Linked DNA regions of Homo sapiens: region 1 is linked to region 2. A link means that fine-mapping ties the variant in region 2 to the expression of a gene that starts in the linked region. Tissue or cell type: whole blood. Region 2 holds a variant in brackets; the other region holds the start of a gene. All regions are shown on one strand. Distances are between the middles of the regions.

Region 1 (5,149 bases), 38 kb after region 2:
ATTAGCCAGGATGGTCTCAATCTCCTGACCTCATGATCCGCCCGCCTCAGCCTCCCAAAGTGCTGGGATTACAGGGGTGAATGAGCAGCACCTGCAAGATCCCTGCCCTCTTGGGATTCGCTTTCCAGAAGAGTGAGACAGGTGACAAGTAAACAATAGTCAGGAAATATCATTTCAGGCTGTTAAGTTCGATAACGAAAAGGAAACAAAATTGCACCTGTGATTAGCAGACTCTTGGCCCCCTAATGGGATTAGGTCTGCATCCTGATCCCCAGAGCATGCGAATATATAACATAACTGAGCAAAGGGGAATTAAGGTCTCAAATGGAATTAGAGTTGCCGATCAGCTGACCTTAGGATAGGGAGAGTAACCTGGATTATCCAAGTGGGCCCAGTGTTGTCACCGGGTCCTTAAAAGTGGAAGATGAAAGCATAAAAGAGTTAGAGGGAGATGTAAGGAAGGAAGAATTGTCATGGAGACCCAACATTGCTGGCTTTGAAGATGGAGGAAGGGGCCATGAGCCAAGAAATGCAGGTGGCTTCTAGGCACTAGAAAAGACAAAAAATGTTTCTTCTGGAGTCTCCAGAAAGGAATGCAAGCCTGCCAGCACCGTGATTCCAACCCAGTGAGACCCATATCAAGCTCCTGCCCTCCAGAGTGGTTAGCTTCACAGCTGTGTTATGAAGCTGCTGGTCTGTGTTTGTTTGTTACTGCAGCTCCTCAAAGCACCCCTCCTCAGAGAGGCCTTCCCTGACCACCTGCTGAGGAAAGTTCTCCTGGAATCACTTTCATGGGTTCTTTCACAGAATGTCTCAATTTTAAATGATTTGCTTGTGAAGGAGTTCCGAAGTAACTCCCCAAAATATGCCACTTTGAGACTTTGAACTGAGGTCACTTGGGGAACAGCAACTGCAGGGAGGGGCTTTCCGAGTTTTCCTTTTCTGTCTAAAGACAGATTGTCCAGAGCAAACGCAGTGGCCATGAATCTCCGCCCAGGGAATCTCATCAGCCGGAAGGACTGGCTCGTTTCACAGGAGTCTAAAGGTCCACACTACGTCCAGATAGCCTTTGTCACAGGCTGTCGTCACCTGTCCTGCTGAGGGCCCACTCCTCTTCCCCAGAAATCATTTACTCTCCACTACGGTGCTGACACCCCACCCCTCTCTCCCTTGTGAAGAGGGTATACAAGCTTCTAAATCTTACTGGGTGTGGGGAATTCCTTTTCTTTCCTGGGATGCCCCCATGCATGTGATAAATGTCTGTACCTTTTCTCCTGTTATTCTCCCTGCTGTCAGTTTAATTCCTGACCAGCCAAGGCAGCTAGAAGGGTAGAGAAAGCCATTTTTACTCCCCTACACTTGTGTGCTTATTTATATTGGAAGTGAGGGTCAGGAGGGCCCCCCTGAGGAAGTGACACTGCAGGTCAGGTCTGAACAAGACCCAGGCACCAGTTATGGGCAGAACCGTCCTAGCAGAATAAGGGAGAGCAAGAGGCAAGGAGATGGGACAGAGGACAGGACCAGTCCTAAAGCCAGTCAGAGTGAAGGAAAGCACTGCCTCGCCCTGGGATACATCCTGAGGGGGCCCACGTGCCTACCTGGGGATGGGCAGCTGGAACAGCAGAACTGGGGCCACTCCCGGCACCTCATCACACAGGGTCCGCTCCCTGCTCTTCCCTTGCACCAGCTCCCTGGGCATGCATCTTCATTTCCTGACCAGCTGCTGGACCTCATGCCCCTGAATATTCCTTCCAAGTGGGCCACACAGCCTACGGAAGCATTCAGAGTCAGCAAACAAGGGAGGAAGTTGCCAGGAGCCTGTGTGCCAAGGACCGAGGCAAGAACTCCTCCTAAGAGGAAAGCGCTTGGGAAAGAGACCATGATTTGTGACAAAGACTGGGAGTGCTGGATCAGGGGAGGGGGAAGCTGAGCCCCTCTCAGTGCACCTTGGGTCCTAAGGAGAGAGAAGGGAGACAAAGGCTGCATTCACCATTTCACTAAAAGTCTGCCACTGAGCAGCCCTTCTTTTCTTTCTCCGTCTTTCCCTTTCTCCACACCCCACCCCCTCCACCTTTAACCTCTAATTCAATATGCCCCACCCAAATCCAGAATCTTTTCCCAAACCACTTCCTCTCCCCCATCTTCCTCACTCTTGACCAAGAAGCCTCCCTTTTCCATCATCCAAGCTCAATATCTTGCAGTTGCCTTTGACCTCCTCCATCTTTCCTGTCCTGAGTTTCTTGCCTGGGTTCCCCTCTTTCCAGTCAGCCCCTCCAGCACCCCCCCACACTCTAGTCCAGAACCTCAAAGCAGGTGATCATCAGCTGCAGTTACTCGCTCTACCAGCCCCACACCTCCCAGCGCCTGGGGAGGTTGTTAGCACAGGGTCGGGTTTTTTGTAAGGTTTTTTGGCTGTTTTCGAAGGCAGATTGTGGTATCTCATTCCTGATTAAGTTGCTTGAATTCCCACCCAAACCTCCCTTGCCAAGGTCAGGATAGCTCTACAGGAAGGGAACAGGCATGGCCCTTCTCCCCAGGCCCCAGCCAGGCCCTAAGCCACTCCTCAGCCAGGCAAGACTTTAGACTCATTTCCTGCCCCGTGAGCACTTAGAATAAACTTCCTCCTTCCTTGTGAGATTGTTTAACAGGGCAGGGAGAGTTGATGGCAAACTTCCTCAAAGGAGGGGCAGAGCCTGCGCAGGGCAGGAGCAGCTGGCCCACTGGCGGCCCGCAACACTCCGTCTCACCCTCTGGGCCCACTGCATCTAGAGGAGGGCCGTCTGTGAGGCCACTACCCCTCCAGCAACTGGGAGGTGGGACTGTCAGAAGCTGGCCCAGGGTGGTGGTCAGCTGGGTCAGGGACCTACGGCACCTGCTGGACCACCTCGCCTTCTCCATCGAAGCAGGGAAGTGGGAGCCTCGAGCCCTCGGGTACGTCCCCCCAAGAATGGAAAGGGCTATGGTTCCAGGTACACATGATTGACAGAGGGGAAAATGGAGGTGGGGAGGGTGGGAAATAGGAGTGAAAGAGCCTGAGACAGAATGATGAAAGGAAAGAAAGAAGGAAACCACATAATCGAAGAGATTCCTGAGATCAGACTCAGGAAGGCAAATAGATTTCATCTGAGGCACCAGGCCTGATCAATGAAATTAGACTGTGATAAAAAGGATTCTGGGGCTGGGTTCGGGCTCAGGCAAAAGCATGCTATGATTGATTAGCTATGTCTGCCATGGGCACAAGAAGGAGCTGTAGGGCATGCCAGCTAGGGATTTGATAACCCACACTGCAGGGTTTTTTCCTTAACCACAGGGGCCCCTCAACATTTATTCTTTCATTCACTCATCTATTGATTCAAAAAAACACATTCCAATGATCAACAGTGAGCCACACAAATATTTGAAAAATGAATAAAAAAGAAAGGAATGTTGTTCTTTGGCCCCAAATCTCATTTTTCTCATAAGGTAATGATCTGAAAAGTTATGACAAAGGTGCATGGACTTGAGAGATTTTCTAGCTATGTAATATTGAGCTAGTCCCTTTCACTAAGACTCAGTTTCCTCATCTGTAAAATGGGAGAGAGAGTCTGAATATCCCCCATCAATCGCTGAAGTTCTCATTGTCTACGCAACTATGATAATCATCACTGAAGTACATAAAATAACATGTATGATGTGCTAAGTGCTCTCCATATAATAACACATTTAATCTTCCTATCACCTCTACAAGGAAAGCACCATGATTATTCCCACTCTGCAGACGGAGAGCCAAGGCAGTGAGAGATTTAATAACTTCCCCAGGCAATCTGGCTGCAAAGCTTTTGCTCCTGCCCACTATGCCACACTGACTCTACACTGCAGTGGATTCTGAGTCCATGGCTGGAAGTGGGCTGCCTGGGTACAAGAGTGTCCTTCTAGATGATTCATCCAGTGAGCATTAATTGGGTCAGGTAAAAAAGACACAATGATTAACAAGATGAGGTATCATACATGGTTCTAACCAGAAAGGGAAAACTTGCACAGATAGTCATTTTCAAAACAGTTTGACATACACCATGGAGATAGCCTGGGAGTCAGGGCAGACTTCTCCCAAGAGAATGCCGGGTCCTTCAGGAGTGAAGGGCAGGGGAGGAAAAGATTGGGTCAGTGGAGAATCTCTGAGAAGGGGGAACAGGAGGAAAGAAAGAGGAGGGCAGAGCAGCTCAAGCAGGAAAGGGGTAGTAGCTGGTGGTGGAAGGTGAAGTCAGTGAGGTTGTTGCGCCCAGGTCTGCACAGGCTAGGGAGGAGTTTGCCATTGCTCAGCATCTGCCCAAATCTGTGCATCTGCCTGTCTGCCCTTGGGCACCTGGAGGTTTAGGGGCTTCTGTCTTATGGCCATGGTGTGCACACCTCTTCCTGAGCTCAACTCCATCTTTACACACAGACCCTGCTGCTTCCCATAGGAATGTTGAAGCCTCCAGAACCCAGGGGCCTAACTTCCTCATTGGCACTTCCCTGCGGTGGGGGATGCTCGAAGTCATCATTTGCCAACATTTCCTGGTGCTGGGGCAGCTGCTCCCCCTTGGAGGAGACCTACCTGTCTACTACTGGCAGTCCTGGTGAGACTTCAAGTGGGCAGCCGACAAGCCTGCCTGGGGGACTGGCAGCCCCCACCCAGCCTGCAGTCCCAGAGGGCAGGTGCCCTGGAGCGGAGCAGACATTTCCTACAGTTGGTGCCAATCCCTTGCTTCTGGAGGCTCAGAGGTTTGCTCCCCCAAGGGTGTGGCCTGGGGAGACAAAGACATAGAGGTTGTGGGGAGAGCAACCCTGCCTTTGGCATTTGAATCCCAGTTCTGCCCTTTTTCCAACCATGTGACCTTAGGCAAGTTGCCTATCTTATTGGCTTGTCTGACCCTCCCTTATCTCAAAAGAATGAGGACGGTAATAAGTTCTTTGGGATTTGACAGTGTGCATTTTGAAAAAGACAATGTGTGCAAAGCATCTACCATGATGCTTGCCACGTAGTAGGTGCACAATATAGGACAGTGCTGTTGTCCAAGCTGTGCACCTTCTATGCACCAGGCAGTCTGCATGGAACTGGGCATTCAGAAATGATTAGACACTGTCTCAGGAAGTTCACAGCCTATCAGATAAATTAGTCACATCAATGATT
Region 2 (5,149 bases):
CCCCTTGGAAGCCTTTTAATGCTTATTTTTGGTGAAATAAAATCCATTACCCAGGAAAAAAAATGCCCAGTGCTGAAGATTGTGCTGCAGTCCAGGGCCTGGGTAGTGTCACACACCGTATTTCAATAGGAGAAAAGCCTCGAAATTGAATTACTGCCTGAAGATTTTGTGCGAAAGAGGGCATTGTCAAAGGACCTTGTCAGATCATATTCTGTATGTTTTATAAGGCATCTCATAGTATATGTTTAAATCTCACAGATTTTATGCTGGGACACAAGAGGCCTGGGGCTGGGAGCACTGAGGTGTTAAAGGACAGAGATACAGTGAAATAAAATGCTGTCGCTCCAGTCTCTGTCATAATTCTCTCAGCTTACAAAGTGATCTTAGAAAGAGAAAGAGAAGGAAAGAGAGAGTGTGTGTGCATTTTTTGGAAGGTAGGATTGAAAGGAATGTCTTTTTTATCTATTATTTAATTACCTTAATTAGGGTTTCTCAACCTTAGCACTATTGACATTTTTGTTACCAGAAAGGGGACCTGATCCAGACCCCAAGAAAGGGGTTTTGGATCTCACACAAGAAAGAATTTGGGGCAAGTCCACAGACTAGAGTGAAAGAAAGTTTATTAAGAAAGCAAAAGAATAAAAGAATGACTACTCCATCGACAGAAAAGCCCTGAGGGCTTCTGGTTGGCTAATTTTATGGTTATTTCTTGATTATATGCTAAATAAGTAGTGGATTATTCATGAGTTTTCCAGGAAAGGGGCAGGGATTTCCCAGAATGAAGGGTTCCTCTTCCTTTTAGGCCATATAGGGTAACTTCTGGATGTTGCTGTGGCATTTGTAAACTGTCATGGTGCTGGTAGGAGTGTCTTTTAGCATGTTAATGCATTATAATTAGCATATAATGAGCAGTGAGAATGACTAGAGATCACTTTTGCTGCCATCTTGGTTTTAGCAAATTTTGGCAGACTTCTTTATTGCATCCTGTTTTATCAGTGGAATCTTTGTGACCTGTATCTTGTGACCTCCTATCATCCTGTGACTACAAATGCATAACCTCCTGAGGATACAGCCCAGCAGGTCTCAGCCTCATTTTACTGAGTCCCTATTCAAGATGGAGTCACTCTGGTTCAAGTGCCTTTGACATTTTGAGCTAGATAATTCTTCATTAGGGAGTGGCAGTGGGCTTGTACCTATACTAGGATATATAGCAGCATCCCTGGCCTCTGCTCACTAGATGCCGGTAACACTATCCACCTCCCAGGCATGATCATCAAAAATGTCTCCAGACATTCCAAATGTACCCAAAGGGGGCAAAATCACCCTCATTAAAAACCACTTACTGGGCCAGGCATGGTGGCTCATGCCTGTAATCCTAGCACTTTGGGAGGCCGAGGCAGGTGGATCACCTGAGGCCAGGAGTTTGAGACCAGCCTGGCCAACATGGCAAAACCCTGTCTCTACCAAAAATACAAAAATTAGCTGCACATGCTGGCAGATGCCTATAATCCCAGGTACTCGGGAGGCTGAGGCAGGAGAATCACTTAAACCTGGTGGGTGGAGGTTGCAGTGAGCTGAGATCGCACCACTGCACTCCAGCCTGGGCAAAAGAGCAAAACTCCATCTCAAAAAAAAAAAAAAAAAAAGAACCACCGACTGGGGCCTCAAAGATTATCACTGGGATCAGGACATGAAGAGTAGAAAGGACGCAATGTCTCTGGTGCCCACTGCAGCTGGCTGTGTGCTCAATGTCTGCCCAGGAAGGAATCTGCTCTAAGCAGAAAATATGATCTGCACCTGCAGAGGGGAAAAAAAAAAAAAGTCAGTTTCCAGAATCTTTCTACCTGTGATGTCATTAAAATTAACTGTAGATGTATTACCAGACTTTCCTCGTCCCCTGCCCAGAAAAGAGAATTCAGGCTTGGGCCATGAATTAGTCAGGGCTCTCCAGAAAAGCAGAAGCAGCAGGATGTGTGTATAGAGGGAGAGATTTAATTTCAGAAACTGGCTTACATTATTATGGAGGCCTGGTAAGCCTAAAATCTCCAGGATAGACCACAGACTGGAGGTCCAGGGAAGAGTTGCAGTGAGACCCAAGGCAGTCTGCTGGCAGAATCCTTTTTGGGCAGGGGAAATCAGTCTTTGTTCCATACAGCCTTCAAATGACTAAATGAGGCCCAGAGGCCCATCCACATTAGGGAGCGTAATCTGCTTTACTTAAGATCCACCGATTTAAATGTAAATCTAATCCAAAAAGACACCATCACAGAAACATCCAGAATAATGTTTGAACAATTATCTGGGCACTGTGACCCATCCAACTTAACACATAAAATTAACCATCGCAACCCATTTCCTGACTCCACCCTCTGAGAAGTGCCTGGCCCAGCCAGATGGGTTCTCTGGCTTTCATGATGAGAGAATGAAGAAGAAAAGGGAGGCAAGATAACAGGAGGCAGTCAGGGAGGAGGCTGAAGGAGGCTTTGGTTTTGTGTGTGTGGAGAGAGGTAGATGTAGAGAACTGGGTCATGAGAGAGTGAATGGCACAGGTTTATAAAACAGGATTTCAAGAATATCAGTGAAGAGTGTCATCATCAAAGTACTCAAAATCATACAAATAAAGGAGCTGAGTTATTTGTGAAAGCACTTTTGATGGTGTTGGCTGTGTTCTTTTTCATTGCAACACGTTTTTGGGACTTATCTATGTGGGTGTCTAGGCATTACACATATGACAGAGCCTCCATTGTGGCCAACAG[G/T]TTCCTCAGGTGGTGTGGTTACTGCAGCTGTGAGCCAACTTCAGTGTATTTATTTAGCCATTAACAACAGTAGAGAGGCCCATCTTTTCCTCTAACGGTCATTTCCTTCTTGCCTGAACACCTCCAGGGAAACTCCCCCAACCCCTTTTCAAAGGAAGTTTTCTTTCAGTCCATGATGAATGGGCAAGGTGGCCTGAAGGGAACATGGCCCACCCTCCAGTCTTAGCTAATTGCTGCAGGAATGGATGCTGGTGGGCCAGCATATATATATAAATATAAATGGATATTTATAACCTGACACGTCCACCCTACTGCTGTGTCCGGTTTCCATTGGCTGGAATGGAACCTCACATTCTGTATTTGTCCTGATTGGCTAGCAGCTTAGAACTTTCTAAAGAGGCAAAGGCAGAGGAGAACAAAGGAAGGAGGAAGTAACTTATGGAATGCTGGGAAAGGTGAAAACCCTCCAAATAAGGAAGAGGAACAGGCTATGACCTAATGCTTGTTTGGACCAGCATAAGCATGCCAGGGCAAATATTTAGGCTAAATTGTGGGAGCTAAGAACACAAAGCACATTGATTTCTTTATTATGGCTAGCAGATATCTAAGAATGTTAGCACAGGTCTTTGAATAAATTTTGCTTCTAAGAGAAGTTACTATTTATACCTAATTAGACAGGGAAGAAAAGAGAAACCTCTACTTTACTTTTTACACAAAAAGGTGGATAATCTAAAAGAAATCTTATATTAGTGATGATGCTGGTGGTGGAGATTGTGATGAAGGCAATGGTGATAATGATGATCATGATGGTAACAACAATGGGACACTGGTGGTAGTGATAGCAATCATGGTGTTGGTGATGCTCATGATGATTGTGGCAAAAGTAATCGTGGTGATGATCTGATTCTTATGATGATGCTGATGATGAAGCTGGTGATGATGGTGGTGGTGGTGGTGATGATTGTGATGGTGATAATGACAAAGTTGATGATGATGGTGATGATGGGAATGGTGATAGTGATGCCAGAAGCAACCACTCATTGAGTGCTTTAATTTTACCAGATCTACTTCTGATCAGATCTCTCAATTTCTTGGGTTAATATGCAGAGGAAATGAGGTCATAGATGCAAAAGCTTCTGAAAATGATTAAATCAATCATGACATTAATAATTTGTTTATTAACCACTTACTGTAACACTGCACTGAGCTCAGTGCTTTAGGCAGATATTTTCTCATAACAACTCTATCATAGATGTCATTTTTTATGTTTGACTGCTGACAGTTTTCAAGCTTCCACCATTCCCGTTCCCTTTGCCCCAAGTCTGGGCAAGCTGATAAGAAAGCCCAAATACTCCCTCCCTTGGCACCAGTGGGAAAAGTCAAGCTGTGCAAAAGTCAAGCTGTGTGTGATTGTAGGAACTCAAATCCCAGCCCCATCTTCTAACCACAATAAAAACCAAAGGCACTGCCACTTTGAGCCATTTTCAGACCAACTTGGGTGCCTCCCAAACCCTCCCAAAAAGACTCATGAACTGAGTAAAAAATATTTTCCTCCACTTTTGGTGCACTTGTGACATCATCAATTTCAATATTTGAACCAATTCGGGGTTGGGGGTCGTTGATCCTGCCCTCTTCACAGGGCAACCACAAAGTAAGCTCCATGAAATAGGGAATCTTATTGTTCTTATTTTATTGATAAAGAAACAGAGGATCAGAGAGGTAAATTAACTTGTTTCACATCACCGCAGCTAGCTAATGGCAAAGACAGGATTCTGTTTAACTCCAGGACCTGAGTGTGAATCAACCAGACTATATTTTCTCCATTTCTCAGGGTGATTTTAAAAATGAAGCAGGATACTTATGGTGGAAGATCCTTGAAAAACTGAAAGCATTTGCTATGGTCTGAATGTTTGTGTTTTTCCAAAATTCATAGGTTGAAATTCTAAACCCCAAGGCTGGGGGAATGGGATGGGGGGGCTTTGGGAAATAATTAGGTCATTAGGGCAGAGCCCTCAAGAATGGGATTAGAGCCCTTACAAAAGAGGCCCAAGAAAGACCTCTTATCTCTTCCGCCGTGTGAGGACACAGCAAGAAGGTGCCATCTATGAACCAGAATATGGTCTCTCACCAGACACTGAATCTGCTGGCCTCTTGATCTTGGACTTTTCCAGCCTCCAGAACTGTGAGAAATAATTTTCTGTTGCTCATAAGCTCCCCAGTTATGGTACTTTGCTATAGAAACCCAAACAAACTAAGACAGGGTCTGTTCACTTTCTCACTCTTTCAATCATTGACAACCATTTTTATAAAAAAAAACAATGTGTGTATGGGGTAGATAAATGGACTATTTCTTCCTTCAGTTTCTTTTTCTCAGCAAGTTAAATTTTTTACAG

The links. PIP is the estimated chance that this variant, and not a neighbour inherited with it, causes the effect. A credible set is the group of variants that fine-mapping cannot tell apart.
Region 1: FAM3D starts here. The variant in region 2 is the best candidate, but not a certain one, in a credible set for the expression of FAM3D in whole blood (TOPMed, PIP 0.75).

Annotation. Positions count from the first base shown.
Region 1 is chr3:58,664,358-58,669,506 of GRCh38, reverse strand. FAM3D (FAM3 metabolism regulating signaling molecule D) reads left to right here and starts at 2,733. Exons shown (of 10, transcript NM_138805.3): 1 at 2,733-2,931. It overlaps LOC105377109 (a long non-coding RNA gene), which reads right to left and starts at 4,874. Exons shown (of 3, transcript XR_940879.3): 1 at 4,574-4,874; 2 at 1,599-1,954.
Region 2 is chr3:58,702,570-58,707,718 of GRCh38, reverse strand. LOC105377109 (a long non-coding RNA gene) reads right to left here. Exons shown (of 3, transcript XR_940879.3): 3 at 1,635-1,797. Among named protein-coding and RNA genes, the nearest start is that of FAM3D, 38 kb to the right of the region's middle. The variant G/T (reference allele first, on the strand shown) is at 2,757.